Linked DNA regions of Homo sapiens: region 2 is linked to region 1. The links come from fine-mapping of genetic effects on gene expression. A gene starts in region 1. The other region holds a variant in brackets. All regions are shown on one strand. Distances are from middle to middle. Region 1 holds the start of GRXCR1 (glutaredoxin and cysteine rich domain containing 1). Region 2 overlaps GRXCR1 (glutaredoxin and cysteine rich domain containing 1).

What was found. PIP is the estimated chance that this variant, and not a neighbour inherited with it, causes the effect. A credible set is the group of variants that fine-mapping cannot tell apart.
Region 2: its variant is the best candidate, but not a certain one, in a credible set for the expression of GRXCR1 in testis (GTEx, PIP 0.83).

Annotation. Positions count from the first base shown.
Region 1 is chr4:42,889,914-42,894,321 of GRCh38, reverse strand. It overlaps GRXCR1 (glutaredoxin and cysteine rich domain containing 1), which reads right to left and starts at 1,609. Exons shown (of 4, transcript NM_001080476.3): 1 at 672-1,609. The coding sequence starts at 1,055. It also overlaps the pseudogene RN7SKP82.
Region 2 is chr4:42,933,542-42,937,949 of GRCh38, reverse strand. The region is part of intron 1 of GRXCR1 (glutaredoxin and cysteine rich domain containing 1); the gene reads right to left. Among named protein-coding and RNA genes, the nearest start is that of GRXCR1, 43 kb to the right of the region's middle. The variant A/G (reference allele first, on the strand shown) is at 2,382.

The DNA.
Region 1 (4,408 bases):
CTATATTACTCTGCAGAATCTATCACATTTAAAGTAATAAATGTTAAAAATTATTATACAAAATCTAGATCTCAGTCTGTACATTTATAGAGGAGTAATTTTTTCAAGCATCATCCTAGAATTTTTATGGGCAATTTAATAGAGAAATTGATATTGAATGAAGCCTGCAACCTCCTCAGGAATGGGAGGAAGTCGAAGTTAGTCTTTATTGCTGCACAACCTTCCAGTTGAACCCAACCTCGCTGAATTCATGCACTCAACATTTTCTGGTGTAAATATCTACATAAGTAATGATAAATGCTACACTGGTATTTCAAGGATAATAAACCAGAATTTAACTTTTAATCTTTGCTCAAATGCTTTGAACAGCATAGTTTTATCTTTTTCCTTAGCAAAGAAGTAGACAGGTTATATTAGTCATCACACACTGGAAGGAAAAAAAGACCACTTATGTGTTAGAAATTTGGCTTTGAGAACTCAGTCTATTTTCCCAAGCACAATGACCCAGTTTTTAATTGATAGCTGTTAGGACAGTATCTTAGGTGGAGGAGCGTCTCATGAAGCATGTAGGAGTTGCAAATAAGAGAGGCTTGCTTTAACTGGAGAACTGAGAGGTGTTCAGATGGTGAGTTAGGAACAAAGAGCAGGAGAAGGAAACAGCAATGACTTACCTGTAATACTTTGGTCAAATTGTTAAATAGAGCCTGGCCAGCACTCACTTTGTATTTGACGCCTCTGACTGTGCCATTTTTGCTTAAAATGTTGACTCTTCTTGTACCAAAACCCTTCTCACTGGCAGCCCTTGCTAACACCAGCAAGCTATCCTGGTCATTCTCATTCTCATCACCTTCTGACTCTATGTGGCCATTCTGCTGTCCATCGGAATCACCTAGTCCATCTATCCCACAGATACTGGCACATTCAGAATCCAGAGAGCCTGACGGTTGCCCATCTTCATACACTTCCTTCAGAACTCGCCCACTGTGAGAGGACGCGATCCGAAACCGGACTTTCCGTGGCCTGTCACTTTCTGGCTTCATCTCCCTTTTAAGCATGGTCACCTCCACCCATATGAACAGTTTACAGCATTCTGGACCCGTTGTTACTGCACTAGTCCACTTGCCAGATAGCAATATCAGAGCCAATTCTAGTGATGGCAGCACTCCTGTGAAACTAACATCAAAAGGAAAGAAGATTCCCAAGGACTTACAGTGTGTCTCTGCTATTAATAATAAATGTGTGTGTGTGTGCTATGGTTACCTTTAAACTAAAACCCGCAAAATGATCTCAGCCTTTAAATATTAAATAGCCATGGTGGACTCTTTAACAGGACAAGTGCAAGAAAGTGGCATGCAGCGAATCTGAAAATATGTATGGGGCAAGAAAATGAAAGGCTTGAACTTTGAAGCCAATGGTGGGCATTGAAAAGGACCTGAGCAGTGGACATGTCTCTACTATTCATTGTCCAAACCAGAGGTTAGAGGTAAAATGTGGAACCAAGTTTGTAGGATAAGAGCAGTCACAGTTTTCTCACAGGACTTATTTATTCTTTAAAGGGCAGTGAACACGCTGCATGCTGCATGCCTGCATAGAGCTATTACTATTAGTTCTTATTAAATCATCAGTTAGATTTCATCTACATTGCATAAGATGAATGTCCAACTTACATCTGTCTTTACCAAGCTAAAGAATAGCTTGGTAACAAAAATGCGATTTTTTAGCTTTTTTGAAAAGGAGAACTTTTGCTTTGTTGCTTTCCCCCTTCTGCTAGTAGAAAATGTTGTTCTCTTTGACAGAGAAAAGGTTTCAGAAAGAAAACATATGCAACAGTAAGGGAAGAATGGAAAAACCCTCCAGGCTAGCCAGATCAGCCAAAGCAATCCAGGTAATCAGCATTGATAAATATTATATCCAAATCACCCATGCATAGAGAAAGTTCCTCCTCATGCTGTGCTCAGTGTATTTTCTATCACTTTGGCAAGCACCTAAGGAACCTGTTACGATATATAAGGTTATATTGAAATGTACACTATAGTGAGTTCCCCAAGCTGTCTGCACCTCCTGAGGGAGGAAAGCAGCTTGCGTGCATAAAGTACCACGTTTTTAATTTTTATAGTTTTGGTCTCATTATGAACTTAATTTACATTTATTTTAGAAAATTCAGAAAATAATAGCAAGAAGTTGAAAATAAAATCATGAAAAATCTCACTAGAGATGTTAATAATTTTGTGTATTTTCTTCCAGTGTATAATGGCAGAGATGCTCCATGGCTCACAAAACCAGATTGCCCAGACTCTTGAATTTAAGGGAAAAGGGAACAAGTGCCTAGCTTTTGACAATAATTGTGAGCAAAAGTGATGCATCATTTACGCACCAAGTCAATTGAGACAGAGCCTGCCCTGTCTGTGCTATGTTTCTTCCTGCCTCAACTGCTAGCTGCATGGCCCCAGAGCAATCTGGAAGCACTACACTGAGCTTGTCAGAGTTACAGAGAAATTAACAACCACGACCACCCTGCATTAGATGATGTCATGGGAAAAAATAAGCCTTTATTGTGTTAAGCAATGAAGATTGAAATTTAAGAGTTGTTTGTTAGAGCAGATATCATTACTGAATCTGATTAATATGCTCTCATATACAAAAATATATTGCATTTATTTAGTATCTTGGTTTTTTCAGTCAAACTTATAACATGAATCATTTCCCATACCATTATTTCTGAAAAACATAAATTTAATGTGTGTATTAAAAAACCTACTGATAGCCATGTTGTATTTTACTTTATTCTTTCTGGATTGCTAGATGTTCATAATTTAAAATATTTGGTAAAATAATGCCATAATTAATATTCTTGCTTAAAAATCAGTGTACATATATCTGGTTGTTTAGCATAAATTTATTTGGGTAAAATTGATGAGGTAAGAATTTTTACAAATTTAAAGCTCTTGAAAAAAATTGTCATTTGCTTTTAACACAAATTGTATAACTTACACTTCTACTAGTATATGAGTGCCTGTTTTATTGCACTTTTGCCAGTGCCAACACTGAATACAGGCATACCTCAAAGATATTGTGAGTTTAGTTCCAGACTCCTGCAATAAAGCAAATATTACAATAAACAGTCACATGAATTTTTTGTTTCCCATTGCATAAAAGTTATGTTTATACTATACTATAGTCTATTAAATGTGCAGTACTGTTATGTCTTTATAAAATGCACATATTTTAATTTTAAAATATTTTACTGCTAAAAAATGCTAACTATCTCCTTAGCCTTCAGAAAGTCGTAATCTTTTTGTTTAAAAGGGGTCTTCCCTCCATGTTAATAGCTGCTGACAGATCAGGGTGGTAGTTGCTGAAGGTTGGAGTGGCTGTGGCAACTTCTTAAAATAAGACAACAACAATCTTTCACAAAAGATTTCTCTGTTTTATGCAATGCTGTTTGATAGCATTTGATCCACAGTAGATCTTCTTTCCAAATTGGAATTGATCCTCTTAAACCCTGCCACTGCTTTATCAACTAAGGTTTTGTAGTATTCTAAATTGTTTGTTTCCATTTTAACAATGTTCACAGCATCTTCACCAGGAGTAGATATCATCTCAAGAAACCACTTTGCTCGTCCATAGGAAGCAACTTCTTATCCATTCAAGTATTATCATGAGATTGCAGCAATTCAGTCTCATCTTCAGGCTTCACTTGTAATTCTATTTCTCTTGTATTTCCACCACATGGAAGTCATTTCCTCCACTGAAGTTTTGAACCCCTCGAGTTATCCAGGAGGGTTGAAGTCAACTTCCAAACTCCTGTTAATGTTGATATTTTGACCTCCTTCTATAAATCACAAATGTTCATAATGGCATCCAGAATAGCAAATCCTTTCCAAAAGGTTTTTAATTTACTTTGCCCAAAGCCAGCAGAAGAATCACTATCTATGGCAGCTATAGCTTTACCAAATGTACTTCTACAATAATAAGACTTGAAAGCTCAAATTAGGCTGGGCGCAGCAGCTCACACCTGTAATCCCAGCATTTTGGAAGGCCGAGGCATGCAGATTGCTTGAGCTCAGGAGATAGAGACCAGCCTGAGTAACATGGCAAAACCCCAAAATCCCCTCTCTATAAAACAAGACCAAAACAATTAGCCAGGCATGGTGGCTCATGCCTGTAGTTCCAGCTACTTGGGAACTGAGGCAGGAGGATCACTTGAGCCCAGACAGTCAAGGCTGCAGTGAGCCAAGATCATGTCACTGCATTCCAGTCTGGGTGACAATATGAGACCCTGTCTCAAAAAAAAAAAAAAAAAAAAAGGTTAATGTCCTTGTGTATCTCCATCAAAGATCTTGGTTGACCAGGTTCATTGTAAATGAGTAGTAATATTTTTAAAGAAATCTTTGTTTTTCTGAGAAGT
Region 2 (4,408 bases), 44 kb before region 1:
ATAACTTAGAGAATTCAATTGAAATGTTTATAACTCAAAGAAATGATAAATGCTTCAGGTGATGGACACCTCATGTACATTGATGTGATTATTATACATTTTATGCCTATATCAAAATATCTCATATCTCAATATATACATACCTACTATGTATCCATAAAAAATAAAAACTTTAAAAACATATGTTACAATTGCTATACATGTATATGAGAATTGAAATATTAAGTAAATAGATGATGGGTGATGGGAGCCAAGTTTCTTATTGTTGAGAGTGGGAATTTAGAAATAAGCAAGGGAAGGAGACTAGAATCATCCATGTGGTAATGGATTAGAGTCATGGGCACCAGTATGAACTCGTGTTTAGCTTGATTCAGATACAAATGGTTGCATATGGAAATATTTATAGATGTGGAAATACACAGGATAGCATACCCACATATATTTCCTTGGTCTGTCAGCTGAGAGGTCCTAGAAACAATGACATCCCTGGAGCAGTGAACACACTTAGCTCTCTTGGCTCCCAGATATTGCTAATACCATTTTCCAATAAAACGAACCAGAGCTCCTTGAAGAAACAGCTAATTATAGCACTGGGGCAGAAAAAAAACACAAGGTGAGCCTGGATCATCTTACATTGCCAGAAAGTACTCAAAAAATAAAAATAAAAATAAAAAAGACCTCAATATGAGTATGTCAATGGGACTCAAGAGCCAATTTCAATGACCAAAGCTGGAACAATTTGAGCAACAAAATAAAGTGGTATTAGATTATATAATCAAATTATAAAATAAATACCTATGAGTCCACACTGATATACATAAATGATTGAATAAATAAATAAGGACTAAGCCAAATCTTCCATGAGAGGAATTTCAAATGCTGTATGTAGATACTTCATTCTCAAGGAAGTAGAGTGTAACTCCTCACCTGGTAAATGTGAGCTGAATGACTTCTTTCCAAAGAGTACAGTGTGGAAAGTAGGGAAAAAGAGTAACTATATAGTGGAGAAACCTAGCAATCAGCACCTCATCCAGGGATCAAGTTTAACTTCAACAATGAAAAGTCATGTTGATAGCATGTACTCTTTACAGAATGATATAAAAATGAAGCATTACTTCTGTTATCTTCCTTTCCAAGACACATAACCATAATCTAATTGTGGAGAAAATACTGAACAAATTCCAACTGAACATTCTTTAAAAACCTGACCAGCACTCTCCACGACTATCAAGATCACCAAAACCAAGAAAAGCCTGAGAAAATGAATGAAATATCTAACCTAGATGAGATCCAGGAACAGAAAAAAGGACACCAGATGAACCCTAAGGAAATCTGAATAAAGTATGGACTTTAATTAATAATAATTTATCAGTATTGGTTCATTAACTGTGACAAATGTACCACACTTATTTTAACATGTTAATAATAGGAAACGTTGGGTGTTGGTCATATGGAAACTCCTTGTACTATCTTTGCAATTTTTCTGTAAATCAAAAACTATTCTAAAATAAAAAATTCTTTAAAAGGCAAAAGGCCAGTAAACATAAAAAATTCTAACACTAGTAATAGTAATAAAATTCTGCAAATTAATGTAAAAATCTTAACAGCTTACTATAACTCAGATTATTAATTAAAATTGGATAAATGGATGTTGTTTTCTTCTTAAACACTAATTTTCAACTTGGTATGTGGTCTCAGATGTCAGCAAATTTTGGTCTACAGTAATTTTTATTGAACATCAGTTTCAATAAAAATTGACCATCTCATTTTCTAATATTTATATTATTTGACAAAGAAACAAAGTCACTCCAAAGAGGGATAATTCTCACCTGTTCCTCCTTGTTGCCCAAATTAACATAAGCCAGGACTACAAGTCTCCAGAGCATAGCTGGTAAATATTTAGTAGAGCATTTCCCAAATTAAATTACATAAAGTGACAAATGCCAACAAGTGTTCTTTCACAAAAACAAAAAAGTAGGATGGGAGTTCTTTAATGAAATATTACATTCCCCCCTTTTAAAAAGCAGTGTTATTTAGTGTAAAAGACTGGAACATCCCAGAGTAAAGAAACCTATTATCTCACTTCGTATGGTCATTGTACAACTTTTGAGAAGGCATATGTTAACATCTGAAGGAACACTAGACTTCCAAGTAATAAAACGCATTAAGATTATTCAAAAAGAACTTTAATCTAAATAATTTTAAATCCCCTTTTTAATCTTGCCAGATGCTTCTGCCTGGCATTCACACCCTTTTACTATACAGCCTGTTTATCCTTCGTTGTACACTCATCCCATGTCTCAGAGGTTCTTCACCACAAACCTCCACTCTTACAGAGCTTCTTTGTATATCTGGATCTTAATTTTATTTCTTACTCGCCT[A/G]AGACATTGTGCCATCTGACTGTCAGAAACATATTCTTCCTTCCCTCCTCTCCAAATGCTACCCATCTTTCCAAGCCTAGCTTAAACCACATCTGTTGCACAAAACCCTCCCTCATTTGTCCAGACCCTAATCATTTCTTTCCCCTCTTCCTTCCTATACTTCTGTCTGTAATACTAACTTTACCACTTAGTGCACAACATCCAATTATTTCCCCCAATAGTTCTCAAAATGTGTTCCATGGACCCCCAAGTTTTAATTTGGTGTTGTTTTTCCTATCTCTTGGTGCTAGGATTCTAGATACCTTATTGAGGAAACTGCTAACTTTGCTACTGTTTCTGTCTCTGAGTGCATGCAGCTGTGTATCTTTCTCTCTAAGAGTCTATAATTCTTTGAAAGTAGAAAATATGTCTTTCACTTATATGTAACCTATAAAATGTAATGTTTAACATATGGTACATGAAAAATACTTGTGGCCTTGAAATATTCCTGAGCAGTCAGAGTTTCAGGCATTCCAAAATAATCTGGTTATTCAAGGAACTTTTTAAAGAAACTTTCTGTCCTCACCAGAAGCCAAGAGTTATGGAACCCCCACTGTAATCTTCAACCAAAATCCCAATTCCAGACTCAAATCCTGGGGAGGAAATGTTCATTGCATAGTTTACTAAACTTCAGAGAAAAGTGTAACTGACCATAAGAATAATTTCTGTCCTGGCTGCTAAGCTTTCTTTGAGCTCATTGACATGGCCTCGTCATCACCAATCAACTCTTATCAAGTTCCTATTCAGACATGAATCTGTATGAGTCACTAGACTTAGCTGTTATATATGTGGCCCTTATTATTGCAAAGTTTATTCACAGAGCAGGTTTAATACAAACATGGATAACAGATAAGTGAAAGTATTTTGTAAAAACACAAAATAGAAGTCAACGTTTTAAAAAGCACTCTATTTCATGATAGAGCAAGTGTAGGACTGGAGAAATGTGTAGCATTCTGTTAGCTAAGATGCAAAAAGAATTTCTTCCTTTATGTGTGACCTAAAATCCTTTCTATAGGAAGTTCTTTCATATAATTCACATGGAATTATATTAATTCTATGAAAAGAAGTGCTAATCCATGTGTTCAAGCATAAAAGAAGAGAGAGAAACTCTGTGAGTGTGTGTGTGTGGTGCAGAGGCAAGATGTTAAACTGAATTTCTATTTTCTTATTACAAAATTGTTCAATGCATCCATTTTGCACTTTTTACTGCTTAGTATCTCCATCATTCAAACAGTACTTCGGATATGCTAAACTGTGTGGATACATATATACATATATATATATATATAATATCACATCATACACATATAACAGTTATATTATGAAGTCTCAACTCAACACAAAACTTATGTTTTCAGTTAACTGTCTCTACCTGTGTTCTATGAGATCTCATAGAGAAGAAGAGGCCTCCTTAAAGAGTCCACAAGTTGTCTGCTCCTTTCTGATTTAGAACTCCTTCATTTGGATATTTAAAATAGTACTAATAATTTTGAAACTTTGATCTGGAACATGGACCAAGTTTTCTCCTGCTCCAGGTTCTGCCTGCATCTCCCCTTGATTCATCTCACTTGGGGGAAGGAGGTGGAGTGGCGTGCCCTGCTCTTTACTTCCCCTTTCTCGTCCATCTTCAGAACATCAGCTCCTCCTTCTTGGGGGTGAGTGTCTTACTGTGTTCAGGCTGCTATAACAGAATATCATCAACTGGGTGGCTTTAAACAACAGTTCTGAAAGCTGGGATGTCTGAGATAAAAGCTCTACTAGATTTGATGTCTGGTGAGAGCCCATTTCCTGGTTCAGAGGTGGCATCTTCTCTGCATCTTCACATGGTGAAAGGGAGTCTCTGTGCTCTGGGGTCTCTTTTATAAAGGCACAAATCCTATTTATGAGGGCTCCATGCTCATGACCTAATCACCTCCAAAAACCAACCTCCTAACACTGTCCCATTGGAGGTTAGGTTTTAATATATGAATTTGAGGAAGATATGAAGA